Linked DNA regions of Homo sapiens. The protein of the gene in region 1 purifies or fractionates together with the protein of each later gene. This does not show direct contact. Each region holds a gene or a part of one and is shown in the gene's direction. Other genes may lie near its edges. The genes, in order: RNF185, TAP2, SRPRB, DERL1, PCNX3, ASPH and UBAC2.

Region 1 (4,034 bases):
AGAATGCTTCCTGCTCACTTTGGGAATACACTCAGGCTCAAGGGACAAGAGACCTGAGTTCCCATCCCAGCTCTGCTACCAATGAGCTGGATGACCTTGGGCAAATCCTGTCTCCACTCTAAGCTCGTTCTCCCCATCTCTAAAGTAATAATACTTACCATTTAGTGAGCACTTACTACCTGCTACTTGCTGTGCTGAGCCTAGAGGCAGTATAGCATAATGGTTATAAGCAAGGACTGTGGAACTGGGCTTCCTCCTTTTGAAGCTTGACTCTGCCACCTTCCTGTTTGACCTTGGACAAGGTACTTACACACATTCTGCCTCATTTTACAGGGTCGTTTGCAAGCATTAAATGACTCAAAATATGTAAAAGGCTTAGAAGAGCACATAGCTTGCAGTAAATACTATGTGTTAGCTATGACTATAATTGTTACTATATTTTATGTTTATATATAGATAGATACACTCATCAAAATGAAGTGTCAAGGTCGGTGTCTGTTCCAGCCTTGACGGTTACAGGAGCCCTTTCTGGCTCTGAGAACCTAGGTGCTAGGTGAAGGTCGGATTTTGGTTTTTTGTGTGTGTGTGTGTGTTTTTTTTTGTCTTGAGATTTTGAGCTGAACCTTGAAAGGTCGATCAAAAAATGCTAGGTAAAGGCGAAGGGTGTGTGTGTCACTCCAAGGCAGGGAGTTTCTAGGGACAGGCACATGCACTGTTGGACTCATCTGAGACCCTTGAGGCTACTGTATACCTCTCACAGCACTCTGGATGAGGGTCTGGGAGTGTTAGGAAAAATAATGGTTACAGTAGTGTTGAGCCAGATTATCAAACCCAGATTCGACTAAAGGGACATAGAGGTAATGAATATTTTTGAGCAGAGAAATCGTGTGAAGAAAAGGCCGTTTAAACAATATTTAAGGGATTTTAAGTTGGCAACAGCGTAAAACATCAATTTATTGGTGAATAAATAGAATGGAGCAGAGATTTTTGTTCTTGAGGCTCTTGCCCTAATTACCATCTTGTGTAAAAGCTGTTGTGATCCACATTCTCCTAGAAATTCAGGATACTTCAGGGTATCGTAAAACCAGGACTTGAAATGATTGACAAAATTAAGAATTCAAAGACAGGATACCCCTGATTTGATTATGTGAATGTATCAAATTATCACATATAACATAAAAAATGTGTACAGCTATTATGGCTGGGCTCAGTGGCTCACACCTGTAATCCAAACACTTTGAGAGGCCATGGTGGGAGGATCACTTGAGCCCAGGAGTGCAAGATGAGTCTGGGCAACATAGTGAGGCCCCACTATGTTTAAAACTAGTCAGGCATGGTGGCGGTACCTGTAGTCCTAGCTACTCGGGAGACTGAGGTGGGAGGAAGGCTTGAGCCCAGGAATTCGAGGCTACAGTGAGCTATGATTGTATCACTGCACTCCAGTCTAGGCGACAGAGAGAGACCCTGTCTCTTAAAAATATATATATATTCTGGGCTGGGCGCGGTGGCTCACGCCTGTAATCCCAGCACTTTGGGAGGCCAAGGTGGGCGGATCACAAGGTCAGGAGATCGAGACCATCCTGGCTAACACGGTGAAACCCGTTTCTACTAAAAAAAAAAAAAAAAAAAAATTAGCCGGGTGTGGTGGAGTGCACCTGTAGTCCCAGCTGCTGGGGAGGCTGAGGCAGGAGAATGGCGTGAACCCGGGAGGCAGAGCTTGCAGCGAGCTGAGATCGCGCCACTGCACTCCAGCCTGGGTGATGGAGCAAGACTCTGTCTCAAAAAAAAAATGTGTGTGTGTGTGTGTGTGTGTGTGTGTTTGTGTTTGTGTATGTATTTATTAAATTTTATAATTATAAATTTTAAGATTATAAATTATGTATTTTATGTATATATTAACTATACATATATTTAAATGTACAGCTGTTGTATATCTTTTTTTTTTTTTTTTTTTTTTTTTTTGTGGAGACAGCCTTGCTCTCTTGCCCAGGCTGGAGTACAGTGGTGCAGTCTTGGCTCACTTGCAACCTCTGCCTCCTGGGCTCAAGTGGTTCTCCTGTCTCAGCCTCCCAAGTAGCTGGGACTGCAGGAATGCACCACCACGCCCGGCTAATTTTCTTTTTGTATTTTTAGTAGAGATGGGGCTTCGCCATGCTGGCCAAGCTGGTTTCAAACTCCTCACCTCAAGTGATCTGCCCACCCCGACCTCCCAAAGTGCTAGGATTACAGGCGTGAGCCACCATGCCTGGCCCTGTGTCAAATTTTTTTTTTTTTTTTTAGAGACGAAGTCTTGCTTTGTCACCAGGCTGGAGTGCAGTGGCACAATCTCGGCTCACTGCAATCTCTGCCTCCCAAGTTCAAGCAATTCTCCTGCCTCAGCCTCCCGGGTAGCTGGGATTACAGGTGCACCCAGCTAATTTTTGTATTTTTAGTAGAGAGAGGTTTTCACCATGTTGGCCAGGATGGTCTCGATCTTCTGACCTCGTTATCTGCCCGCCTCGGCCTCCCATAGTGCTGGGATTACTGGTGTGAGCCACCATGCCTGCTATCAATTTTTTTTTTAAAGGCAGAATGCCATTGGAAAGAACACAGACTCTAAAATGAAACAGATGCTTCCAGTCTGGATGGTGCATCCCTGAGCAAATCTGCTAGCTTCCCTGTACTTTGGTTTCCTCATCTGTAAGATGGAGATGATGGTACTGCCTCATAGGTTAATGTGACCGTCCAGTGACATTAAGAAATGAAAAGGTATTCAGCCACAGCGTGGCACACAGTACAGTCATGCAGTACATAATGACATTTTGGTCAACAATGGATTACATATCCAACAGCGGTTCCATAAGATGATGATGGACCTGAAAAGTTCCTATAATCTAGTGATTTTAAAATGTTATAGAGCAGTGCGTTACCTTTTCTGTGTTAGGTATGTTGGATTTTTTGTTTGTTTGTTTGTTGTTTTTTTGAGGAGTCTCACTCTGTTGCCCAGGCTGGAGTGCAGTGGCGTGATCTTGGCTCACTGCAACCTCTGCCTCCCAGGTTCAAACGATTCTCCTGCTTCAGCCTCCCGAGAAGCTGGGATTACACATACGTGCCACCACACCTGACTAATTTTTGTATTTTTAGTAGAGACGGGGTTTTACCATGTTGGCCAGGCTGGTCTTGAACTCCTGATCTCAGGTGATCCAACCGCCTCAGCCTTCCAAAGTGCTGGGATTACAGGCGTGAGCCACCACGCCCAGCCTGGTTTTTGGTTTTTTTTGAGATGGAGTCTCACTGCGTCACCCATGCTGGAGTGCAGTAGCACTCCAGATTGAGTAGCACGATCTCAGCTCACTGCAACCTCCACCTCCCAGGTTCAAGTGATTCTCGTGCTTCAGCCTCCTATGTAGCTGGGATTACAGGCATGTGCCACCACACATGGCTAGTTTTTGTATTTTTAATAGAGATGGGGTTTCACCATGTTGGCCAGGCTGGTCTCGAACTCCTGACCTCAAATAATCTGCCCACCTCAGCTCCCAAAGTGCTGGGATTACAGGCATGAGCCACCACACCTTGGCTCTATGTTAGGTATGTTTAAATACACAAATATTTACCACTCTGTTACAGTTACCTATGATACTCACATGCTATTCAGGTTTGTAGCTTAGGAGCAATAGGCTATACTATGTAGCCTAGGTGTGTAGTAAGCTATTTCAGCTAGGTTTGTGTAAGTACACTCTGTGATGCTCACAATGATGAAATTGCCTAATGACACATTTCTCAGAATTATCCCTGTCGTTCAGTGATACATGACTATCGTTGCTTAATAAATGGGAGGAATGGTCGTTGTTATAAAGCCTGACTTTCCCCTGAGGGTCATTCATTCACCTCCACTTCTCCCCTAGAGTCTTTAAGGGAACTTGCCAGTGGAGATCTGCCATGATTTGGGGTTATTCTCCACTCAGTTTAGAATGACATTGCAAGATTAATGTTGGAGTCAGATGTTATGGCCAGGAAGATTGTGTATTTGGTTTGTGAAGCTAAACTGTGGTTCA
Region 2 (4,763 bases), on another chromosome or scaffold:
AACAGGGAGTAGGGCACCTAGGATAACTGTTTTTGACTTTATAGAGTAGGATGAAAAAGCTTCCACTTCACTTTAATATGGTAATCATATAAACACCATACCATTTATCCCAAATAACACTTTGGAGATATTGGATATTGAATATAAAGACAGACATTAAGGGTCTAATTTCATGATGTGTCATGCTGAATTGCAAGATGGCAGGACTATAATTTTAGAGGAAGAAGAGATCAGGAGGACTCCCCTAAGTGAGGAGTGTGGGGAAAATGTAAAAGATCCAGGTTAGAAGAAAGAGACACACATCATGAGATTTTCGGAATCATGCTGGAACTATGGACCATGTCACTTTCCAGAAAATAAAGGAAACAAATGCTTGAAAGTAGGAGCATGAGCTTGAGCATGGAGCTTTTTTCATTAGAGAGAGATTCTTAAAATGCCAGAATGAATAGAGTTGTAAAACTTTAGCGAGCCCCTACTTAAAATCCCTCCTCCCCACCACCACTATTTTAAACTTTAAGTGACTCCTTGGTAGTCACACAGGTAACATTTCAAAATGGTGATCTGGAATCCAAGCGACCCTTCCTTTGGGGAATTTGTTTGTTTGTTTGTTTTTAGTTTGGGAGGTGGTTTCAATCTGAAGAGTCCTTTCTGGAATAAACGAATCTTTCTGTTGCATAGGAAGGCTCTGGGTCAGGAAGGATATTTAAAAACCTAATTACTGTTCTAAACAGTGTTAAAATAGAACAAGAACCAAAGCTCAGTACGGGGCATTTCCCTCATAGGCTGAAGGTGCGCCCAACATAATTTGGAGTACAGACTCAGAGGCACCTGAACACGCGCCAGCTCAAGGTGCTCCGGCTGAGAAGGACGGATGAAGATGAACGCTCAGGGCCTACTAAATTCAAAGTCTGTACGTGAAAATCCCCTTTGGCCTGGTGAGATTGGTTGGAACCTTCTATTTAGGAGAGCCCGGCTCGCTCGCCTAAAACTGGAGCTTGCATGGAAGAGGGCACTTTTTTTTTTTTTAGACGAAGTCTCACTCTTGTCGCCCAGGCTGGAGTGCAATGACCCGATCTCGGCTCACTGAAACCTCTGCCTCCTGAGTTCAAGCGATTCCCCTGCCTCAGCCTCCCGAGTAGCTGGGATTACAGGCGTCCGCCACCACGCCCTGGCTAATTTTTGTATTTTTAGTAGAGACAGGGTTTCACCATGTTGGCCAGGCTGGTCTCGAACCCCTGACCTCAGGCGATCCGCCCGCCTCGGCCTCCCAAAGTGCTGTGATTACAGGCGTGAGCCACCGCGCCGGACCAGAAAGAAGGCACTTCTTAATAGTAGGCTCAGAGCTTGAAGTAGTAACTTTGAGAAAATTCAGTGATTCTCCAATTACAAAGCATTCTCCAATTACAAAGCAAGGACAACAGATAAAGTTGCCCTTGAGACAACTGTATTTTACTTAATGATAAAGAAACATTTTTGCAGTTTTATATCCCAGAGTAACCGCCACTAAAGGCGAGTGAGACTCATTGCAGGCCTGTACAGTGCGAACCAGAGTTCGGGCTCCAGTTCCGCTGTCTGCGGGTCTCGCGCGCCCCCTCCCGGCGGCCCAGCCCAGAATGAAGGCCTTGGCTGGGGAAGCGAAAGCGAAAGCTGCCCGAGCCCTGACGCCCGCCCTGGCCGAGCGTAGCTGGCGGACCAGAGCCGGTAGCGAGGTTGGGAGAGACGGAGCGGACCTCAGCGCTGAAGCAGAAGTCCCCGGAGCTGCGGTCTCCCCGCCGCGGCTGGTGAGTTGGTGCGGAGGGGAACCTGGAGCGCCAACAGGGACGCAGCCCAAGTGACTACCCACTCCACGCTCCTGCTTCCCAGTCCCTCTGCACCCGGCGATAGGAGGGAGCGGAGCCCGGACCACTTAGCTCGCCGCGGCAGGCGGGGGTGGGGGTGGGGGTCCGGGGATTTTTTTTTTTTTTTTTTAAGCACGAGGCTCCTGATGGTCATGCTTCCAGCTCCCCAGAAGGCCGAAAGCTGTCTGTCGTAGGAGGGGTGTACGGATGAGCACCGGTTACTCAGGAGAGCTCTCAGGGTTGAATAGGATAAAATGAGAAGCCGATGGACGGGTTAGGCGGAGCCGGGCGGGTAGGAGGGCAGGGACAAGGATTGGGACTCCACCCCCATGATTTCTCATCTCGTATCCGTTGACAGAGCCATGCGGCTCCCTGACCTGAGACCCTGGACCTCCCTGCTGCTGGTGGACGCGGCTTTACTGTGGCTGCTTCAGGGCCCTCTGGGGACTTTGCTTCCTCAAGGGCTGCCAGGACTATGGCTGGAGGGGACCCTGCGGCTGGGAGGGCTGTGGGGGCTGCTAAAGCTAAGAGGGCTGCTGGGATTTGTGGGGACACTGCTGCTCCCGCTCTGTCTGGCCACCCCCCTGACTGTCTCCCTGAGAGCCCTGGTCGCGGGGGCCTCACGTGCTCCCCCAGCCAGAGTCGCTTCAGCCCCTTGGAGCTGGCTGCTGGTGGGGTACGGGGCTGCGGGGCTCAGCTGGTCACTGTGGGCTGTTCTGAGCCCTCCTGGAGCCCAGGAGAAGGAGCAGGACCAGGTGAACAACAAAGTCTTGATGTGGAGGCTGCTGAAGCTCTCCAGGCCGGACCTGCCTCTCCTCGTTGCCGCCTTCTTCTTCCTTGTCCTTGCTGTTTTGGGTGAGTCAGGAGAGGACGTTGTGAGTTGGAGGTGGTAAAAGGGCCTGGGCACCAGCACATTCTTGTGTTATTTTTCATGCCTCTTTCAGGTGAGACATTAATCCCTCACTATTCTGGTCGTGTGATTGACATCCTGGGAGGTGATTTTGACCCCCATGCCTTTGCCAGTGCCATCTTCTTCATGTGCCTCTTCTCCTTTGGCAGGTAGGTGGTGGGCAGCTGGGTCCATTTGCTAGCCCCAAATCTTTATAGGGGTCTTCACTTCCCTAACTCCATTTCTAGGCCCTTTCAGGCGCAAAACACAAAAATACTTAAACTAAAATATGGTGAATGTAGTCACCATTCTGTTTCATCTATCCATTCATTTCTTCCTTCGTTCATATTCATCCAATATCTTCAAAGTTTATCTGATCTTATTATAGGAACAAGTTATGAGTGAAGGTAGTACAAAAGGAATTTAAGTCTCAGATGGAATGTCTCTCAGTTGTCTCTCAACATTCCTAGGTCCATGAAATTCCATTTCTTTCTGCCTCCTACCTCCTACCCCTAAGTCTGTCTCCAAAGTATCTCTCCAGGGTCACTCCCTCAGGATGGGTATGCTTCTCCCTTTCACTCTTCTTTCCCAGCTCATCTTGCCAGTCCCTGAAGATCTTACTCTGAGGCTTATCACCTTTCTTTCCAGAATCATTACTCTTTTCCCTTCACTTGCTTTCCTTTCTCTTTCTAGACATACTCAAACAAACAAACTGTTTGATAAGGCTGGGACTGGGATGAGGTGAGCGAGGCACCTGGGGTGCAAAGTTTAAGGAGGTGTGCACTCACCTTACCCAAATCCCAGCCGGCCTGATTGTCTCTATTTTTATGGTCATACTTAATTTAGAGTACCCTCGAAAACCATTTCATTGTGCCTTCATTCCATCCTGGCTGCTTTCTGCTGAAACTACAGTCGTGCACTGCATAACGAAGTTTAGGTCAATGATGGGCCACATATAAGATGGTGGACCCACAAGATTATAATACCATATTTTTACTGTACCTTTTCTATGTTTAGATACACAAATACTTACTTCTGTGTTACAGTCGCCCACAGTGTTAGGTGCAGTTATATGTTGTACAGATTTGTAGCCTAGGAGCAATAGGCTAAACTACATGGCCTAGGTGTGCAGTAGGCTATGACATCTAGGTTTGTGTAAGTACACTCTATGATGTTCATACAACGATGAAACCATCTAACGACACATTTCTCAGAACACATCCCTGTCATTAAAGTACAAACCCTCATTATATCATGTCTGACTCTCCCAAACGCCTCTTCAATATGGTAACTAAATTTGTATTAGAAACATATATTTTGTAAAATACATGCTTTTATGCTTTATATTTTTTCCTCTAAGTGTTACTGTAGCATGTAGTTGGTCTAAGAGGGATTTTCCAACTCGAAGGATGAAAGATGGGAATCACATGACTCTGGGGCTCCAGAGAATTGTGGGGGCAGGGAATTTATTATTGCAGTTCCCATGATGAAGTATCTATGATGACAGAGAAGGGCTTTGGGTATGGGGCAGGAAGGAGACCAAGGCGGAGGAGACGCACAGAGGGACAAGCCTGAGGGACGCTGGGACAGAAGCAAGCACTGGGATACTTGTTTTCACAATATCTTTTCCCTTCTATTGTAGTTTTCTATTGTGTCTAGTACAGAGTGCACTCCATAAATACTTGTAAATTTGTACATGTTATGATTTTGTTCTCACATCTAGCTCACCATGTCTCCTCTTTCTTCTTCCTCTGTGTATTCCTTACCTCTTCTCTCTCTGTGTGTCTGTCTCTCATTTCTTTCTCTTTTGCCCCTCCTGGCATGCTTTCCCCTGACTTTGCGCTTCTCTGCACTCCTGGCTTGCTCCTCTGTTTCACCCGCTGGCTTGCTCCTTCTCTGCATCTCCCTCCCCTCTTATTCTCCTACCCCACAGCTCACTGTCTGCAGGCTGCCGAGGAGGCTGCTTCACCTACACCATGTCTCGAATCAACTTGCGGATCCGGGAGCAGCTTTTCTCCTCCCTGCTGCGCCAGGAC
Region 3 (4,034 bases), on another chromosome or scaffold:
GAAATCCTGTCTCTACTAAAAATACAAAAATTAGCCGGGTGTGGTGGTGGGCGCCTGTAACCCAGCTACTCGGGAGGCTGAGGCATGAGAATCATTTTAACCCGGGAGGTGGAGGTGGCAGTGAGCCAAGATTGCGCCACTGCACTCCAGCCTGGGCAATAGAGCGAGACTAAGTCTCAAAAAAAAAAAAAAAATATAAGGAATCATGGGAAAGACATTTTACATACCTCTGTAACTTCAGAATGTAGACAGTGACTACCAAACCGATTGTAATGCATAAGTTTGTTTGTTTGTTTTTGAGACAGGAGTCTCACTCTGTTGCCCAGGCTGGAGTGCAGTGGCATGATCTTGGCTCACTGCAACCTCTGCCTCCCGAGTTGAAGCGATTCTCCTGCCTCAGCCTCCTGAGTAGCTGGGATTACAGGCGCCCACCACCATGCCTGGCTAATTTTTGTATTTTTAGTAGAGATGGGGTTTCACCATGTTGGCCAGGCTGGTCTTGAACTCCTGACCTCAAGTGATCCGCCCACCTCAGCTTCCCAAATTGCTGGGATTACAGGCGTGAGCCACTGCACCCAGCCATGTAATAAGTTTCGGTGAGTGAGTGGAGTGAGGGCTCGTTGGAGGATGTGGATGGATAGATGGATGAATTAGAATTGTGGTTTGAGACCTTTTCTTCTTCTCTTTGTCTTCTTTCCCCTTTCTCATGCCTCCAGAATTAAAGATTGTAAAGAAAAATAAAGGGACATGTTTTTAAATATCTTAGCGATATCTTTGTTTTTTTTTTCAATGATGACACTCTTTGTGGCCCAGACCTTTTTAAACTCCCAAGGATTCAGATTTTGAAATTCCAGGTTTGCAAGATCATCTAGTACCTGCACTAGATTTTTAACTTAGGATACTCCAGGATATGCTTTAAATCTGTACCTTCTAATATGTAGCCACTGGCCACATGTGACTGTTGAGCACCTAAACTAGGACTAGTCCAAATTGAGGCATGCTGTAAGTGTGAAGTACACACCAGATCTTGAAGACTTAGTATGGAAAAAAAGAACGTAAAGTATCATTAATAATTTCTTTTTTTATTACATTTTAAAAGATAATATTTTGGATATATTAGATTAAATAACTTAAAATTAATTTTACCAATTTCTTTTTACTTTTTTATTATGGTTACTGGAATATTTAAAATTACATATGTGGCTTCTGTTATTCTATATTTCTACTATATTTCTATTCTATCAATATTTCTACTGAATATATAGAGCATTTTTCCCTTCCCTCTTCACTCTTTCTCCTACCCCCTTACGTTTTCGATCTAATCTCTTTAGATAGTAATATACCTAGTAATGTATCTTCCAAATTGCTTAGGGTGTGTGGTATAGTGCTGCTTTTGAAATGGAGCAGTTAAGTCCCAACCTGGGATCTCCAGACTCTTAACAGTACTTAAAAAAAAAAGAGAGGGACTAATAAAAAACATATTTGTCTATAAAGAAATGCACAGGCTATGTGAAAGGTAAGGTCATAATAAACCCAGCTGGAATTGTGTTAAATCTGTGCAGGATACTGATTGCCTGCTTCTGAACTGTGGGTATGGTTGGCTGTGGATAATGTAGAACATGTAAGAAATGATGGTCTGCTGCATGTACCAGGCCACATCTAAGAGTCTTATTGTTGAGCACAGCCACGTTTACACTGAATATAAACTTTATTCACCATTCCAGGCCTTGACCTTATATTCAGGAATGGCAGCCTGGCATGGTGAATAGAACTTATTAGGGTGCATCGTAGATTTGCTCAGTAGGGGCTCAGGAATTGACACAAATGCTGACGGAGTTGGAACAAGTAAATTATATGTCTGGAAGATAAATATTTAAATAATTAGATTAAGGGTGGAAATGATAAAAGTGTACTTTGTTATAAAGATTGGAGATCCCAGTAAGAGTAATATGCTCTATGAAAAATTGTAAGTTCTTATATTACATTATTAGTTTATGAGTACTTGTTACTGTTTTCACATTTTTGCTTATACTCATACAGTACTCCTACTTTGCTATACTCACACTGGTTTATCTCCCAAGCCTCAGGTAGATCATGCTTCCCTGACTCCCCCAGACAGGTTTTTCCTGTACCCTCAAAACATTTATCAGTGTTCTCATTTTATATTTATGTGTAATTTTACATTATGTTCACCTTTCTCATAAATTTTGCCAGATCAGGAACCGTGTCTTTGGCCACTGTTACATCCCCAGAACGTTGACTAGTGTTTTATGAGTAGAAGATGCTTTGTGAACATTTGTTTGGTTAATTAGGTACCAGTTTGGTAGCCAATATATGATACTAAAGGTTTATATTGTGAACGTGGAACTGTATTGAAACGTTAATGTTATTGCTGCCATCCCCAGGGCAATAGTCTGACCTTGATTGACCTTCCCGGCCATGAGAGTTTGAGGCTTCAGTTCTTAGAGCGGTTTAAGTCTTCAGCCAGGTAAGAAGGAAAGAAGTGAAGTGGGCTTGTCTAGGTCTGTATCTGTATATCAAAGCCACTCATGTGATTTGCTCTGGTGGTGTTTGGGAGGCAGCATGGTATCCTGTGGTAGACCTTGAGGTGACCTTGGGGTCAGCCAGTTCTGGGTTGCAAGTCCACCTTCACCTGGATGATGAGGATTTTATGGGATTAAAATGCTTAAAAAGTGTTTTTTAGTGTTTAGGAAATGTTAACCCTTCTTGTCATTGTTACTAAATGTTTGCATTTATTCTGAAGGTGAATTTAATAATGTATATGACTATTAAAATCTGAAAAAAGAATTTTAAAGCTGGGATGAATCCTAGCAGTTTTTAAATGCCAACATCATTTATATATATAGTGTTTTTTTGTTTTTTTTTTTTGAGATGGAGTCTCACTCTGTTGTCCTGGCTGGAGTGCAGTGGTGTGATCTCGGCTCACTGCAACCTCCACCTCCTGGGTTCAAGTGATTCTCCTGCCTCAGCCTCCTGAGTAGCTGGGATTACAGGCACGCACCACCACACCCTGCTAATTTTTCATAATTTTAGTAGAGATGGGGTTTCACCATGTTGGCCAGGCTTGTCTCGAACTCCTGACCTCATGATCCGCTGGCCTCAGCCTCCCAAAGTGCTGGAATTACAGGCGTGAGCCACTGCACCTGGCCCATATATATTCTCAAATTACGTAAAATTGATGTTTCAAGAAGTACAGAACAATATTTCCATATTTCTTTTAGTGTGTGCTCTGGTGTTACTGACTCTTAAGTTCTTCCCTAAAAAGTCTTATGCTGCAGTTTCAGATGCTTCTTTTTTGGTCTCTAACATTAATAAGAACTGAAGAGGAAAATCAGTATGCCACATTTCACTGATTTGAAGACACATTTTAATATCTCTGAATTTAGAATATATCTTATAGTTGATGGTGTCATAGTTTAATTGGCAGTATTTTCTCTTAGCGGTCCCTAAAATAATGTCTTTAATTGGCAGCATTTTAGTTTTGATGGAATGAAGTAGTAGATTCTTTGCCTTTTATTGAAGATGTCTAGACTGAAATTTCATTATTGCATCTTTGCCCACAAGATGGTGGTGATGAACAATTTGTCACAGATAAGAAAATTCCTTGGACAATTGAGACAAATCTAGAGCTGGTAAATTTTGCCATAATTGGGTTTTTATTTCCAATTAAATGTTTTTTCTTTTTCTATTGCCAGTTCTAAATATTTTATGATTTGCAGTATAACTACTCTGTGATTCATGTATTTTGGGTAAATAAAACATGCAAAATATGAAGATAAAACTTAGTTCAAATAAATTATAATCATGATAACATGCAAGTTGAAAAGACATTTACTATATTGGTATGTGACTTTTTTTTAATCCTACTTTCTGGCTTCGCCAAGTTTCCCTAGTGGCTATTTTCCCTCTCCTGATTTGAACATATGCTGTTGCTGTTCTTATCATGGTTCCCCTCCCCCATCTTTTAAACATTGCCTATTTGATTGTCTGAATCCAATAATATCAGTTTCCTT
Region 4 (3,351 bases), on another chromosome or scaffold:
CGGAGGCGGGAGACACAACTGGGGCCAGGGCTTTCGACTTGGAGACCAGTGAAGGGGCGGCCTCGGGCAGCCGCTCCTCTCAAGCCACATTTCCTCCCAGTGCTGGGTGCACTTAACAACTGCGTTCTGGCTAACACTGTTGGACCTGACCCACACTGAATGTAGTCTTTCAGTACGAGACAAAGTTTCTTAAATCCCGAAGAAAAATATAAGTGTTCCACAAGTTTCACGATTCTCATTCAAGTCCTTACTGCTGTGAAGAACAAATACCAACTGTGCAAATTGCAAAACTGACTACATTTTTTGGTGTCTTCTCTTCTCCCCTTTCCGTCTGAATAATGGGTTTTAGCGGGTCCTAGTCTGCTGGCATTGAGCTGGGGCTGGGTCACCAAACCCTTCCCAAAAGGACCCTTATCTCTTTCTTGCACACATGCCTCTCTCCCACTTTTCCCAACCCCCACATTTGCAACTAGAAGAGGTTGCCCATAAAATTGCTCTGCCCTTGACAGGTTCTGTTATTTATTGACTTTTGCCAAGGCTTGGTCACAACAATCATATTCACGTAATTTTCCCCCTTTGGTGGCAGAACTGTAGCAATAGGGGGAGAAGACAAGCAGCGGATGAAGCGTTTTCTCAGCTTTTGGAATTGCTTCGACCTGACATCCGTTGTAACCGTTTGCCACTTCTTCAGATATTTTTATAAAAAAGTACCACTGAGTCAGTGAGGGCCACAGATTGGTATTAATGAGATACGAGGGTTGTTGCTGGGTGTTTGTTTCCTGAGCTAAGTGATCAAGACTGTAGTGGAGTTGCAGCTAACATGGGTTAGGTTTAAACCATGGGGGATGCAACCCCTTTGCGTTTCATATGTAGGCCTACTGGCTTTGTGTAGCTGGAGTAGTTGGGTTGCTTTGTGTTAGGAGGATCCAGATCATGTTGGCTACAGGGAGATGCTCTCTTTGAGAGGCTCCTGGGCATTGATTCCATTTCAATCTCATTCTGGATATGTGTTCATTGAGTAAAGGAGGAGAGACCCTCATACGCTATTTAAATGTCACTTTTTTGCCTATCCCCCGTTTTTTGGTCATGTTTCAATTAATTGTGAGGAAGGCGCAGCTCCTCTCTGCACGTAGATCATTTTTTAAAGCTAATGTAAGCACATCTAAGGGAATAACATGATTTAAGGTTGAAATGGCTTTAGAATCATTTGGGTTTGAGGGTGTGTTATTTTGAGTCATGAATGTACAAGCTCTGTGAATCAGACCAGCTTAAATACCCACACCTTTTTTTCGTAGGTGGGCTTTTCCTATCAGAGCTTGGCTCATAACCAAATAAAGTTTTTTGAAGGCCATGGCTTTTCACACAGTTATTTTATTTTATGACGTTATCTGAAAGCAGACTGTTAGGAGCAGTATTGAGTGGCTGTCACACTTTGAGGCAACTAAAAAGGCTTCAAACGTTTTGATCAGTTTCTTTTCAGGAAACATTGTGCTCTAACAGTATGACTATTCTTTCCCCCACTCTTAAACAGTGTGATGTGTGTTATCCTAGGAAATGAGAGTTGGCAAACAACTTCTCATTTTGAATAGAGTTTGTGTGTACCTCTCCATATTTAATTTATATGATAAAATAGGTGGGGAGAGTCTGAACCTTAACTGTCATGTTTTGTTGTTCATCTGTGGCCACAATAAAGTTTACTTGTAAAATTTTAGAGGCCATTACTCCAATTATGTTGCACGTACACTCATTGTACAGGCGTGGAGACTCATTGTATGTATAAGAATATTCTGACAGTGAGTGACCCGGAGTCTCTGGTGTACCCTCTTACCAGTCAGCTGCCTGCGAGCAGTCATTTTTTCCTAAAGGTTTACAAGTATTTAGAACTCTTCAGTTCAGGGCAAAATGTTCATGAAGTTATTCCTCTTAAACATGGTTAGGAAGCTGATGACGTTATTGATTTTGTCTGGATTATGTTTCTGGAATAATTTTACCAAAACAAGCTATTTGAGTTTTGACTTGACAAGGCAAAACATGACAGTGGATTCTCTTTACAAATGGAAAAAAAAAATCCTTATTTTGTATAAAGGACTTCCCTTTTTGTAAACTAATCCTTTTTATTGGTAAAAATTGTAAATTAAAATGTGCAACTTGAAGGTTGTCTGTGTTAAGTTTCCATGTCCCTGCTCTGCTGTCTCTTAGATATCACATAATTTGTGTAACCAATTATCTCTTGAAGAGCATTTAGGAAGTACCCAGTATTTTTTGCTGGATTAATTCCTGGATGCAGAATTCCTGGGTTTTCATTTTAATGAAGGAGGATGCTTGCTAACTTTGAGTGAGGAGTCATATCTGATTGTAGCATGCTTTATGGCATTTTTATAGCTTCTACCCATGGATCTGAGCCCTGGAACTTTATAAAATTAGTTTAATCCTGTTTCCTCATAAGGCACACACAGACTAGATAGCAGGTGCCATGACATTCCTGAGCCCTTTTTTTTTTTTTTCCTCGAGGGTGAACATCCCAGTCTGTATCTTGGGCCTTCGACAGGCCAACTTCACTCATCACAAGGTGAGGTGACAGGAAGCAGGTTGTATGTATGTCCCTCTTCTATTACTGGGGAAATACTGAAGCAATAGAAAAAGATCCCGCTTATTTAGAAGGACACATTGCCAGTATCATTGTGTTCTAAGCTACCTTTTGAATGACATGGATCTAATAATAGGCAATGTTGCAGTTGCCAACATCTTCGTTTATTGCCAACTCTGTTTCTGAGGTCCCTGCCCCTCTTACACTTTCAGCAGTAACTTAACACTCTGAATAACTAACCTTTGAAAGAAGTTACTCCTTTCTGGACTTTATACTGTTTTTTTCTTAGAAGGCTGGGCTGAGCAAATGGGTTTACTGGCAGTTCACTTGTTTGCCTTCCAGAGTGACTGGTGATCAGAATTGGCCAGGAATACCATGTCCTGTGTTTACTTCTTTCTTAACCCTCCCTCCCACCTTCCCTCCCTGTCCCTCCCTCTTTCTCTCCCTCTCTCCCTCTCTGTCTCTTCTTTCTTTGTTTTTTTGAGACAGGATCTCAGTCTGTCACCCAGGTTGGAGTGTAGTGGCATGATCTCGGCTCGCTGCAACCTCTGCCTCCCAGGTTCAGATGATCCTCCCACCTCAGCCTCCTGAGTAGCTGGGACCACAAGTGTGTGCCACCACACTCGGCTAATTTTTTGTATTTTTGTTCGAGATGGAGTTTCACCATGTGGCCCAGGCTGGTCTTAAACTCCTGAGCTCAGGCAAGTCACCTGCCTCGGCCTCTCAAAGTGCTGGGATTACAGGCCTGAGCCACGGTGCCCAGC
Region 5 (4,034 bases), on another chromosome or scaffold:
GGCATGTCCAGCTTGGGCTGCTGGGCAGCTGAGTGTCTCTCCTGGCCGGGCAGCTGAATGTCTCTCCTGGCCCTGCAGCGTGAGGTCTTGCACTCCGACCTGGTGATGTGTGTGGTGATCGCCGTGCTCACCTTCGCCATCAGCGCCAGCACCGTCTTTATTGCCCTGAAGGTTTGTGTGGCATGGGCCGCTGCTGCCTCTCGCTGTCTTGGCGGGAGCCTGCTCAATCTGAGTGCCGTGGGCAGCCCCTCCCCGGCCTGTGCCAGGTGGCCCTCTGTGGTCCCTTGGCCTGCTCCCATCAGCTGAGTCTCTGGCCTCTCCCTCCTGCAGTCGGTGCTGGGTTTCGTGTTGTACGCACTGGCTGGGGCCGTGGGCTTCTTCACACATTACCTGCTGCCACAACTCCGCAAACAGCTGCCCTGGTTCTGCCTGTCACAGCCCGTGCTGAAGCCGCTGGAGTACAGCCAGTATGAAGTGCGCGGTGAGTGCCCACCCCTGATGGCCAGGCCTGGGCAGTGGCTCGGGCTGCAGCCTGGCTGGTGGGAGCTGTGGTCCTCTCGGCTCAGGAGTGCCAGCAGGGGGCACTCGCTGCCCACACTACCCTTTCTGCTCCCTCCCTGCCCTCTGTGTCCGTGTTGCCCGGCTGCGCTCTCCACCGACTCTTCTCCTCGTGCCCTGCTGTGCCCTTCCCTTGCCTGTGTTGCCCTGGTCCTGCCCTCCTTCCTGTCTGTGAGAAGACGGAAGAATTAGAACCCCAGGGCCCTGAAGGGATCTCTTGTCCAGAATTAAACACTGATCACCAGTGGACCAGAGCTGCCTGGAGCACATCTTCACTGGGCTGCATAATGGTTTTTAAAAAATCCTGGAGCCTCTATTTTAGCATCTCGATTTGAGATATGAAGATCCATGTTTCTTGAGTTTTTCTTAAACGACAGAAGATTTTGCTTCCCAGACTAGCATCCCTCTGTGGCTACAACCAGCCTGAACCGAGGGGTCTGCCCTTTAGAAGGGCCCAGCTCACGGGCTCACTGTGCACTCAGGCCCTAGCCAGCCTGCTGTACGTAGGTGTTTGCGATTTCATCATTGGCCTTGTTTTAACAGACAGCAGAGCAGAGCACCTGCCATAAAGCAAGCCTCGATGTGCTAAGTGCCATGTGGAGCCCTTGCCCTGCTGGGGCTCGCTGCTCCCATTTGAGCTGCCACAGATCAGCCCCTCCCCCCAGGGTCTCCGAGGAGTCAGGACCGCACAGCCTGCCCTCCTAGGGAAGGACTTCCTCAGGGAAGGCAGGCATGTGGAAGCCAGGTGCAGAGTCCTGGCCTCTCCACACAGGTGCCGCCCAGGTGATGTGGTTTGAGAAGCTGTATGCTGGCCTGCAGTGCGTAGAGAAGTACCTCATCTACCCCGCCGTGGTGCTCAACGCCCTCACGGTGGACGCCCACACAGTCGTCAGCCACCCGGACAAGTACTGCTTCTAGTGAGGACCACCCCACCCTCAACGATCCCATCATCCGCTTTCCCTTTTGATCCGTGGGGAAACTGAGGCCTAGAGAGGGAATGAATCATGTCTAAGGTTGTTTAGCAAGCTAAAGCAGGACCCCAGCTCCTGACACGCCATCCCAGGAAGTGGTTGCTTCTTCAAAGGCAAATGTGTTCCCACCACTCCCTTTGGAAGAGCAGAGACTAAGAGTCACGGGCCCAAAAGAGCAGGGACCAGCCCAGCAGAGCAGAGGCCAGGGGTTGCTCTCCGGCCAGAGTAGGCGAGGGATGGGACACCTATACCCACTGCCCCGGTCCCCTACCAAGCACCCGATGCCTGCCCCTTGCCCACAGCTGCCGGGCGCTGCTGATGACCGTGGCTGGGCTGAAGCTGCTGCGCTCAGCCTTCTGCTGCCCCCCACAGCAGTACCTGACGTTGGCCTTCACCGTCCTGCTCTTCCACTTTGACTACCCGCGCCTCTCCCAGGGCTTTCTGCTTGACTACTTCCTCATGTCCCTGCTTTGCAGCAAGGTGAGTTGGTGGCTGTGGCCCAGACCCCAGGCTGTCCAATGGGAGCAGAGCCAACTTCTGCCTGGGTGGGAAGAGAATTTCCTGAGGGCCTGTGGCCACCGCTCTGTATCAGCCCCGTGGGCCTTTGCAGCAGCCTCTCAAGGAAGGGGTTACTTCCACCCTCTACAGAGAGGAAGCAGGCTGAAGGAGGTTGAGGGACTTGCCTCAGGCTTCCAGAGAATTGGTGGTCAGCCAGGATTTGAACCCAGGCCTGTCTGACCCCACGACCACCTCCTCAGAAATGGTTAGGGTAATCAGGACCTGGCCTTATCCTCTGGACGCAGACCTCTGAGTTCCACGCTCTTTTGCCACCCTGGATCCAGAGCAGTCCGAGCTGAGTTTCAGAAGCCCCTAGTGCCTGGGTGTGTATAGGTGCTCTGCCGGCTGTGGCATTGCCACGGCTTGGGGGGCTCTTTGAACTAAGGAACCATGCTCCTACACTCTACTGGAGGCCAGCAGTGGTACCTGGAACCCCAGGCAGGCCTGAGCCTTTTTCTTCCTCACGTGGGCATTCTGTTCTTGTTTTCTGGCCTGGCCCAGGATGGCGGTCATCCACACTGCGTACCCTCTGAGGGCAGGGCCTGTGGCTGTTCTCAATTTTCAGTACTATAGTCTAGCTTCAGCCTCACCAGTGACCTAGTGGCGTGACCTGAGGAAGTCATTTATCTTCTCTGTCTTCACTGAACCTCAACTTTCCCATCTGTGAAAAGGGGCCAGCAATAGGAATAAGAAGCTCACAGGGTACTTGTGTGAACTAAATGGCCACCGCCCCCTTTGAGCTCAGGCAGGGGTTGCTAATGGCATCAGGCGCCTTGAGCCATGTCCAGAGCACAAGGGCTGGCAGTGACCTTGAGTTTGGCCCCCGTGGGCCAAGCCAGTGCGATGACCCAAGCCTCTGAATGGGGCCTGGCATCCGGGGGCTTCCATGAGTGACCCTGCATGTCTTTTTTCTTCTCCCTGTTGGCCCTGCCAGCTGTGGGACTTGCTGTACAAGCTGCGTTTCGTGCTGACCTACATCGCGCCCTGGCAGATCACCTGGGGCTCGGCTTTCCACGCTTTTGCCCAGCCGTTTGCCGTGCCACGTATCCAGCCTGTGTTTGGGTGGGGGTGTGCAGGGAGGGCTGTGGCCTGGGGCAGTGGGGGGTGGTGGGGGGCTGGGAGGTCCTGTTGCCCGCCGCCTCCTTGACTGTGGCTCAGACTCGGCCATGCTGTTCGTCCAGGCCCTGCTCTCGGGGCTCTTCTCCACGCCTCTCAACCCACTGCTAGGCAGTGCCGTCTTCATCATGTCCTACGCTCGGCCCCTCAAGTTCTGGGAGCGCGACTACAAGTGAGTCTCACAGGAGGCGGGAGCATGCCCAGCAGGGCAGGAAGGGAGAGGTTTGGAGCCCAGGCTGGAGGCCACCCACAGAGGGGCCCACAGCAGGTATGGGAGGGCTTGGTCACAGTGGGGACACATGAGGCGGCAGATCCAATGCAGGGAGAGCCTGCACCAGGCCAAGGCTTCAGGCTCACAGCTTGGGGATAGTGGGGTCTGGGGATGAGCTTAGCCTCCCAGCTTCTTGGCTGTGTGTCCTGTGTGAGTCCCTTCATGTACCTGAGCCTCAGTCTCCTCATCTGCCTGCATAACGGGGCTGTCCTGGATGGCGTTGACCTTGTGGCACAGGGAGAGCATGAGCAGGGTGCACCCTCTCTTCACCTTCTTGGCCAACCGCCTTGTTGCACTCTCTCTGAACAGCACTAAACGTGTGGATCATTCCAACACCCGCCTGGTCACACAGCTGGACAGGAACCCTGGTGTGTACCCAGCCATCCAAGGGGCTTTAGGGCAGGGCCTCCCTGGGGAGGGAGCCTCGCTAACTTGTCACTTTGTCCATTTGCCCGTCTGTTCTGGGTCTTAGGCGCTGATGACAACAACCTCAACTCCATCTTCTATGAGCACTTGACACGTTCGCTGCAGCACACACTGTGTGGGGACCTGGTGCTGGG
Region 6 (4,034 bases), on another chromosome or scaffold:
TTATGTCATGATTTCTTTGGGACAAGGTTTCCAGTTTCTGAGTAGGGATACTGATAAAATGATTTCCACATTTCCTGTTGCTTCTTCTCTCCAGTCTTTGGCCTAAATGGCTCAGTAAGATTGACAGTTGCTCAGAATTTTTCTATCTACATGCTGCTTATACAACAAATTTCAGTTAAGATGCTGAAATAAACAGAAGCATGAGGAATTTGATATTCTTAAAGTTAGGAGTCACAGATTGGGAGTAGGAAGAAACACTTTTAAGAAGTTCACAAATTGCAGAAACCTTACTTTCTGATCTCATCTTTAATTAGGACATAGATGCAGTTTGAACTTAAAAGTTGGTTGTTAAAAGTCTTCAGAAAATAAAAATATTTATTCTTTATATATGCATTAAATAAAATTAGCAAGGTCATAAGTGTGGTGACGGACAGATAGCTCTTCTGCTATCTGGGGTGTATGGGTTAAGTGTTCAACACATTTACCCTTCAGCTCCCTAAGGGTATAAAGCCTCTTCAGCTGTTTTTCTCTGTTCCCATCCATAGTTGCTGTACTTTCGCTCTAGAAAATGGTAGGACAGGTCGAGGAGATAGCACATTCTAGTGGGTTGTGAAGTGGATTAGAAATGAACGGCTTTCCTGGTCTGGCCTGTGTCACTCTAAGTTGTCCTCTCTCTTTAGTCCAGGGGGTGGTGGTTGTCAGCCTTGTGGGGATGAGTGGACTGAGAAGGAGAATGTGTGAGACATCCCACAGTGTACTTCTAGTGAAATATAAAAGTGTTAAGCAGACTTTTAATTGATAGTCCCATTTTTTAATTTTTTAAATAAAATTAATGATAAGCATAGATTCAGAGTACATATACGGGATATATACATACCATTTTGTAAAAGCAGTAAATATCAATCTAATTTTTTTTTTTCCAGAAACCGAGCATAGTTACCACGTGGAAGAGACAGGTGAGATTTTAATTTAATTCTGTTCTTAATTAGAGTGAGTCTTCCTTTAAAAGGGCATCATAAAATACATAATATCTATTATTAATGATATATTTAAATTAATATATGCAAGATATGCAATTAATAATTTTATTACGTCTTATATTTATGGTATTTCTTTGTGAATATACTTTTTTGTGTTTTGATGCCTAGTTCCTGAGGATAAATTTTCAGTAGGATTACTAGTTCAAAAGATACAATTGAATTGCATGTTTTGTACCTTTCAATTACAGAGTCAACGAAAGGTCTAAATCATGTTTTGTCACATGCCAGCGCCCTTAAAGGGCATGGCCACAGGAGGTGGGCGCATCATCTGTCAGCACTTTACTGTTTTGCGGTTTGAGTGTAAACCAGTTGATGACAGGCCCCCCTTACTCATCTTTGCATTTGGCATTTAACACACTTAATACCTATTTGTTTCAGGAGTGAACATGTTTGAATATCATTATGACTTGATTTTGCATTTCAATCATAACTAGAAATTGTGTCTTTCTGGTTTCGAATATTACATGTATTCCTTATTTGAGACGTAATTTCCTAATTATTCCATAATTTATAGTTTCACAAGACTGTAATCAGGATATGGAAGAGATGATGTCTGAGCAGGAAAATCCAGGTTTGTAAATGTTAAAATTATTGATATGTGTTTTCTGATTGAGGCAGTGGCCAAGGCCGTTTTATTCCAGGGTTAACAATTGTGATTCAACACAGAGATCCCTGTATGGTATTTATAATCACTTTTGATTGGTCAGATGTTTATAGAAATGTCTGAATATAGTTTAATACTACATAGAGGGATGAGAGAAAAAGGAGACGTATTTTTCAAACCACTGTTGAGACTTTGGTCTTTGTAGGTAAGGTGCTGGAAAGAATATTTGAAAATTGAAGGGGCAGTATGATGTACTATAAAGTCATTCTGGGTACAAATCCCATTTCTACTCTTTCCTATCTTTTTGACTTAGGCATCAAATTGTGGAACGTTATTCAGCTTAAATTTTATTAAATGATAATGAAAACATCTATCTGGCAAAGTTGTGAAGATAATTAATTTATGAATCTCCTAGAATGCTGTCTGGCAATGTGTTTGGTTTTTTCCTGTTTGGCAAAGGTGTGTTTTTGTTTTTTAGATTCCAGTGAACCAGTAGTAGAAGATGAAAGATTGCACCATGATACAGGTATTAGATGAGCATTTTCATTAGATTTAAAATATTACCTTAGATTTTTCAATCACATGCTGTGTTTACATGGTGATTTTTCTTTTAAAGGCATCAAAGAAGTAATTTCGACATCTAATGCATGAGATTTTGTTTTATAACAAAGTTAGACTGTTATAAGAATATCAGGCTTTCATATTTCACCTCATCAACTAACCATTCCATAACAAAACAGGATGTCAAATTTTAATGCTGTTTTTGTGTATCAAATTCCTCTGTGCCAATTTGAGAAATTTTAATGAAAATAATTTACCTGCCTTTTAATTGCTTTTGGGCAGAGGCATTTATTATTGACTGAGCAGACATTAATATTTGAAGGAGTAGAGTTCTGTGTTTACGATTAAGTAGTATTTTGTTTTAACTGAACAATTGTATAGAATGACTCAGTTAATACTTATTTTGCTTTTATTCTCTTTTTTTTTTCAGATGATGTAACATACCAAGTCTATGAGGAACAAGGTTTGCAAATGCTTTCTTTTTTTTTTTTTTCTTTTTTTTTTTGAGATGGAGTTTCGCTCTTGTTGCCCAGGCTGCAGTGCAGTGGCACAATCTTGGCCCACTACAACCTCCGCCTCCTGGGTACAAGCGATTCTCTTGCCTCAGCCTCCTGAGTAGCTGGGATTACAGGCATGTGCCACCACGCTTAGCTAATTTTGTATTTTTAGTATTTTAGGGTTTATCTCAAACTCCCGATCTCAGGTGATCCTCCCGCCTTGGCCTCCCAAAGTGCTAGGACTACAGGCATGAGCCACTGCGCCCGGCCTGCAAATGCTTTCTAACCTTAAGCCACCTTCTTGTTTTAAAATATACCTATAGTTTGACTACAAGATGTGGAACATTATGCTTTAAACTATAAACTTTGCAACTTAAAACATCCAGATGAACGGTAGCGTTCAAAGAATTCACTTGGGGAGACTGTTTACCCATTCCACGGCTTCTGCCATTGCCTAAATAATTTCTTAAACTCTTTACAAGTTGCCTTAGGAGGCAGTTACAGTCATTCAAGAAAACCAATCTCAGTACTTTATAGTTGTGTCTCTTTTGACTAAAATATGCATGAACAACTACTTTAGCCGGAGTTAAATTGCTCTAGCTGCTTCTACAGGTTAATCCCACTCTCAAAGATGACTGATTTGTCACCTTGGGGAAGGTTAAGAAGCACTGTGTTCCAGGCTTAAAGGCAGTATGGAGAAAACAGTTCTGGCAAATTTGTGGCATCAGCAGCATCTGATTCAGTTTAGGCCTGTACCTCCCTCCTCTTGTGTCCAAGCATTGCATAGACTATTGTGTTGAACTCCATGAAGTAGATTTTATTTTCCCTGCTTCCCAGAGGACAGAAATAAGGTTCTGACATTATAAATAAGCTGCCCAAGAATGTATGGCTAAGAAGTAATAGAACCAATAATATATCCTTTTTATTCCATTATCCTCAAAGATGATTATGTAGAAAGAGAGAAGTCAGTTGGGTATAACTTTATGTGTAAAGCAAGAACGATGAAGAAATACATCGTAATTGAGTTGGTGGATATGGAGGACTTTCTATGTTCTAGATGGTTTTAGGGCCTGGAATTCAATTATGAGTAACATAGGGTCCCTCCTTTCAAGGAGTTTACAGTGTCATGATAGATAGTGAATCACAATTGAAGAAAATTAGGAGTGTTTATAAATATGAATCATATTTATATGATGATTTAAGATTTGAGACCCTACCAAGTTCATCATCTATAGTGGCTATTTCTAATGGGATATGAATGACACCATGGGAAAAATCCTAGGTTGTGTCTTTAAGGTACTGATAATTTTTATGAAAAGTTAAAGAATTTGG
Region 7 (4,500 bases), on another chromosome or scaffold:
CTTTACGAATAAAGCCTAAAGAAGCAAATAAAAGTCATACTTTTGCCTTCTATAATCAGTGTTAACATTTTGGCCCACTGGAACCTCTCTTTGAGGGTAGGGACTGTGTTGATCTACGAATCACAGATTTAGCACACTGGCTGGCACTTATGAGCACTGAAAATGCTTTTTTTTTTTTAGTACTCCATAGCCTATCCCTTTCATTTAGCTGGGTAGTGTGGTCAATTTTCCCCATAACATGCGTTCTCACATAATTGCATGTATTTCTGGGGTACAGTGTGATGGTTCCATACATATACACATTGTGCAACCATCTAATCAGGGTAATTAGCACATCCATCACCAAAACACTTGTCATTTCTTTGTGGTGAGAATATTCAAAATCCTCTCTTCTAGCTATTTTGAAGTTAACATTATCGTTGAGTATAGTCATCCAAACGTGCAAGAGAATACCAAAACTTATTCCTTCTAACTATAACTTTGTGTCTGTTGACCAACCTCTCCCCATCTTCCTCCCCACTAACTCTCCTCTGTACAAGAATAACCACTCTTTTACTCCCTACTTTCACGAGATCAACTTAAAAAAAAACTTTTTAAAACGACTGCATGATATGTTTTCAGGCTCACACATTTAAAAACCGTGACTTTGGCAAAGAGTAACTTCATTCTGCTGGGGAAAAAAATTTAAATGGCCTGAGTCCGGAAGCTCGCCAGGGCAGAAGCGCAGGGTCGCTCCGCCGGGCTCGCCGGGCCGGGGACCCCCCAGCCACCCGCCACCACGGCGGGGAGGGCAGGGTGCTGACTCCAGGGACCACGACAGTCGGCCCCGGTGGTGGGGATTCCGCGCGGGACCCACGCGGGAACAAAGAGGCGGCTGGACGGCCCAGCTCTCCGCACCCGGAAGGACCTGTTCCACCTCTCCGGCTCCCGTACCCCTCTATCCGCATCTGAGTGACCAGATCCCACTGCAGTCAACAGCCCGCGGGGTAGCCAGCTTCGAGGGACCGCCCGGAAAGACACAACGCGCGTGGAAGGCGCCGGGCGTCCAGTCTCGGGAGAGATTAGAAGTGGCGCTCCTGCCCAGCGCCGGCAATCCAGGGGAATCCGCGGCCATCGCGGATCCACCAGGGGTGAGGCGGCACTGAGCACAAGTGTGAGGCTCTCGGGAGCTACGCCTCCGCTTCCCCAGTGCCACCCGTTTTTACCTCAGGCGGTTCTGACCGCCATCGTTTCAACCTGGAGAGGTGAGCCCTCCCCTACCGACGCACTTCCCTTCCCCGGCAGGAAGGAGGGCGCTGACCCAGCGGGCGCACGCCCCTGACTGCGCATGCGCCGGGTGCGCCGTTCGTCAGCGGCGAGTGGCCTCGCGGCGCCGGATTCGTCGCTCCGCCAAGAGTGCGCCTGCGCGGTCGCTGGGGCTCGCACTTCAGCTTCCCCTCCCCCGGCGCCCTCTGGGGCTCCGAGCCCGGCGGGACCATGTTCACCAGCACCGGCTCCAGTGGGCTCTGTGAGTACCGGCCTCCGCCATCCTGGCTGCCCCCTACACGCCACCCTAGGCACCTCTTTGAGGAGGCTGGGGCAGCGGGGACCCTCGGGTTTGCCGGAGGTGGTGGGGCCGACCCTCCAGACCCGCGTCCGAACCCTGCTAGTTCCCGGTCTTGGGGGTCAGCGGAAACCGCCCCCATTTCGGCCTGGAGGGGCGAATGGGGACAAAGCCCCGCCGCCCGCCCCGACCCCACCTGGTATCCCCAGGTGCTCTGCCCAGGAGTCTCTTGGGGCCGCTGCAAGTGGGCAGGTGCCCTGGTGTTCTCGTGGGCCGGCCCCAGGCCCTTTGCGGAGCGTGTGCCGCGCTGAAGGAAGGGGCCGTCCCCCTTACCATGCCCCATTCTTTTAGGCTTGGGGGACCGAACTAACTCCCCCCGCCCCCACTTGCAAAGTTCAGCCTCCGCTTTAGAAGCTGACCTCTCAGTTTCACTTGGATGTGTTTCTTCTTCAGTCTCCAAGAAGAGTTTTTAGACAAACACACACTGATGAGAGTGCTTTCAAGTGGAGGGAAGTTAGGAAGTCGTGGCGAGGGAGCGCAGCTGTGCTGCTGGATGTTGCTGTTTTCCTGGCGTGTTAGCGGTGGTCAGCAGGTAGGGGGCGGAGTATTTTTACAGCCAGTTAAACGGCTTTTCTCACTGAGTGTGTGGAATTGACTTTCGGTAAGGTAGACTGCGTGTTAACAGTTAGGCACGGGTACAGCAACGGAGAACAGCTCTAATTTTGCAATTGCTTGTCACTGTTCATACTCCATGTGAAGTTAATGCTGCTGGAGGACAGAAACATCTGACATTTCCAAATATTAAAGATCTGTTGGCCGGGCGCGGTGGCTCACGCCTGTAATCCCAGCACTTTGGGAGGCCGAGGTGGGCGGATCACGAGGTCAGGAGATCGAGACCATCCTGGCTAACACGGTGAAACCCCGTCTCTCTACTAAAAACACAAAAAATTAGCTGGGCGTGGTGGCGGGTGCCTGTATTCCCAGCTACTCGGGAGGCTGAGGCAGGAGAATGGCGTGAACCCGGGAGGCGGAGCTTGCAGCGAGCCGAGATTGCGCCACTGCACTTTGGCCTGGGCGACAAAGCGAGACTCCATCTCAAAAAAAAAAAAAAAAAAAAAAGATCTGTTGGGAATGTCATGAATCTTCTGAGAATGTGTGTCTCGTCTTATAGTCTGACAGTGAGTTAGTATCAGCGCCACAGGCATAATTTTAAATCTTCCTCACTTCTCAACTTCTCAGGTTTTGAAGTGGTTTCAATATTTATGATTTCCTTTGTTTCATAATTAATTTGATTTATGGCATCTTTCATGGATTGGTCCCGGAGTATGTTACAACTACTAAGTAATCTTCCCCAAACTACCCTTTAGATAAAGAGCATTAGGACTGTAGCTGAAGCTGACAGTTCAAGAAGGCAATGTGGTTTTCCTGGGATCACACAGTGAGCCAGGAACTACTGGTTATGAAATTAATGGTGGAATTCTTCAATTTCAATTGTTCTTTAGCATTTTGATCTATCCTTGCTGGCCAAAGTACATATAAAAAAATAAAGGGCAAGAGAAATCTTATTGGTTGCTGTACTGTATTAGCCATGAGATTATATTGGCCAAGTGTATTCAAATTTGATACAGGGCAACTGTGGGGAAGATAATATTTTGTTATCTATGGCACATGGTGGTGAGTGTTGAATTCTAGGAACCAAACTGTTGCCCAGGGAGAGGCGTAGGTCTGGAGCCCCTCTGCAGCTGTCTTGGCCTGTTTCTAAAATTAAGTGCTTCTGCAGTGTAAGAGTTGTTGGGATGGCCGTTCCTCAGAAGGCTGTGTCTTACATGCTCATTTTACAAACATTTTGGGCATCTCCTCTGGGCGATGAACTGGGCTAGGTGCTGGGAATGCAGCAACGAACAGGTCCTGGTCTCAGTGCTTACAGTGCTGACGGAGCTTAGGCACAGTTTTCCAGGACTGGTCATTAGAAAAGGCTGTGTGTCAGCTTTAACATTTTTCTCTGGAGAAGCTACCCACTGAGGGAGAAGTGATTTCCTTTGTTTTATTTTATTTATTTATTTATTTATTTATTTATTTATTGAGATGGAGTCTCACTGTTGCCCAGGCTGGAGTGCAGTGGTGGATCTCCGCTCACTGCAACCTCCGCCTCCCGAGTTCAAGCGATTCTCCCGCCTCAGCCTCCCAAGTAGCTGGGATTACAGGTGCCCACCATCACACCTGGCTATTTTTGTATTTTTAGTAGAGACGGGGTTTTGCCATGTTGACCAGGCTGGTCTTGAGCTCCTGACCTCAAGTGGTCCTCCCGCCTCGGCCTCCAAAAGTGCTGGGATTACAGGCGTGAGCCACTGCCTATGATTTCCTTTAGATAAGTTGAGGGACCCTTTAGCAAATCAAAATTCTGATCCTGAGCAAGAATCTGAAAGAAGGACGACACGTGTACCTAGCCCTACCCCCATGGGTGGTGAATAACAGTCCCTTTCCAGGGATAAATCCCTGCCATTTTCTACCACCTGCATGTTTCCCACGTTTTGTGGTTAGTAGATAATAGTATTTTAGTGTTAAACTTGCCTTTCTCTCTCATCCATTCAATAAGTGTCTGTTGGGTACCCATATCAGCCACACACTGTTGATATACAGAGGATAAAGTAATAAGCAGGATCAAGGAGACCAGCATCAAACAGGCTAACAAGTCAGTATGATTCACATAGTGATAAGTGACATGAAGACAATGAGAGGGTAACTGCAAAGACCGAAGTTATGGTGGAGGACCACTTTAGCATGCATGGTCACGGAGGGTAGCCGGGAAGGTGACATTGAGCTGAGGCTCAGATGGTGTGAAGGAGCAAGCCATATCAGAGTTTGTTGAAAACTCTTCATTTTGAAGAAAGGGGACAGCAATACAGTTTCAGACACAATGCAGTTGAAAACACCCTGCCATGCCTGTTTCAAGTGCT

The links.
Region 2: the proteins of RNF185 (region 1) and TAP2 purify together in Homo sapiens (affinity purification with western blotting; 2 studies listed by BioGRID and IntAct, with this or other methods). This does not show direct contact.
Region 3: the proteins of RNF185 (region 1) and SRPRB purify together in Homo sapiens (affinity purification with mass spectrometry; 3 studies listed by BioGRID and IntAct, with this or other methods). This does not show direct contact.
Region 4: the proteins of RNF185 (region 1) and DERL1 purify together in Homo sapiens (affinity purification with western blotting; 2 studies listed by BioGRID, with this or other methods). This does not show direct contact.
Region 5: the proteins of RNF185 (region 1) and PCNX3 purify together in Homo sapiens (affinity purification with mass spectrometry; 2 studies listed by BioGRID and IntAct, with this or other methods). This does not show direct contact.
Region 6: the proteins of RNF185 (region 1) and ASPH purify together in Homo sapiens (affinity purification with mass spectrometry; 2 studies listed by BioGRID and IntAct, with this or other methods). This does not show direct contact.
Region 7: the proteins of RNF185 (region 1) and UBAC2 purify together in Homo sapiens (affinity purification with mass spectrometry; 2 studies listed by BioGRID and IntAct, with this or other methods). This does not show direct contact.

The regions. Positions count from the first base shown.
Region 1 is NC_000022.11:31,187,346-31,191,379, forward strand, and holds part of RNF185 (E3 ubiquitin-protein ligase RNF185), read left to right. Parts: intron 1-4,034. UniProt on the Homo sapiens protein: E3 ubiquitin-protein ligase that regulates selective mitochondrial autophagy by mediating 'Lys-63'-linked polyubiquitination of BNIP1.
Region 2 is NC_000006.12:32,835,671-32,840,433, reverse strand, and holds the start of TAP2 (antigen peptide transporter 2), read left to right. Parts: upstream 1-1,694; 5' UTR 1,695-1,781; intron 1,782-2,196; 5' UTR 2,197-2,200; coding exon 2,201-2,693; intron 2,694-2,782; coding exon 2,783-2,897; intron 2,898-4,660; coding exon 4,661-4,763. UniProt on the Homo sapiens protein: ABC transporter associated with antigen processing. In complex with TAP1 mediates unidirectional translocation of peptide antigens from cytosol to endoplasmic reticulum (ER) for loading onto MHC class I (MHCI) molecules.
Region 3 is NC_000003.12:133,808,712-133,812,745, forward strand, and holds part of SRPRB (signal recognition particle receptor subunit beta), read left to right. Parts: intron 1-2,405; coding exon 2,406-2,488; intron 2,489-4,034. UniProt on the Homo sapiens protein: Component of the signal recognition particle (SRP) complex receptor (SR). Ensures, in conjunction with the SRP complex, the correct targeting of the nascent secretory proteins to the endoplasmic reticulum membrane system.
Region 4 is NC_000008.11:123,012,148-123,015,498, reverse strand, and holds the end of DERL1 (derlin-1), read left to right. Parts: coding exon 1-52; 3' UTR 53-2,329; downstream 2,330-3,351. UniProt on the Homo sapiens protein: Functional component of endoplasmic reticulum-associated degradation (ERAD) for misfolded lumenal proteins. Forms homotetramers which encircle a large channel traversing the endoplasmic reticulum (ER) membrane.
Region 5 is NC_000011.10:65,625,574-65,629,607, forward strand, and holds part of PCNX3 (pecanex-like protein 3), read left to right. Parts: intron 1-53; coding exon of another isoform or gene 54-78; coding exon 79-171; intron 172-330; coding exon 331-481; intron 482-1,101; coding exon of another isoform or gene 1,102-1,127; exon of another isoform or gene 1,128-1,324; intron 1,325-1,330; coding exon 1,331-1,475; intron 1,476-1,831; coding exon 1,832-2,009; intron 2,010-3,021; coding exon 3,022-3,130; intron 3,131-3,245; coding exon 3,246-3,375; intron 3,376-3,783; coding exon 3,784-3,842; intron 3,843-3,946; coding exon 3,947-4,034.
Region 6 is NC_000008.11:61,641,522-61,645,555, reverse strand, and holds part of ASPH (aspartyl/asparaginyl beta-hydroxylase), read left to right. Parts: intron 1-923; coding exon 924-956; intron 957-1,554; coding exon 1,555-1,611; intron 1,612-2,122; coding exon 2,123-2,170; intron 2,171-2,635; coding exon 2,636-2,668; intron 2,669-4,034.
Region 7 is NC_000013.11:99,199,433-99,203,932, forward strand, and holds the start of UBAC2 (ubiquitin-associated domain-containing protein 2 isoform 1 precursor), read left to right. Parts: upstream 1-1,421; 5' UTR 1,422-1,476; coding exon 1,477-1,507; exon of another isoform or gene 1,508-1,979; coding exon of another isoform or gene 1,980-2,135; intron 2,136-4,500. UniProt on the Homo sapiens protein: Restricts trafficking of FAF2 from the endoplasmic reticulum to lipid droplets.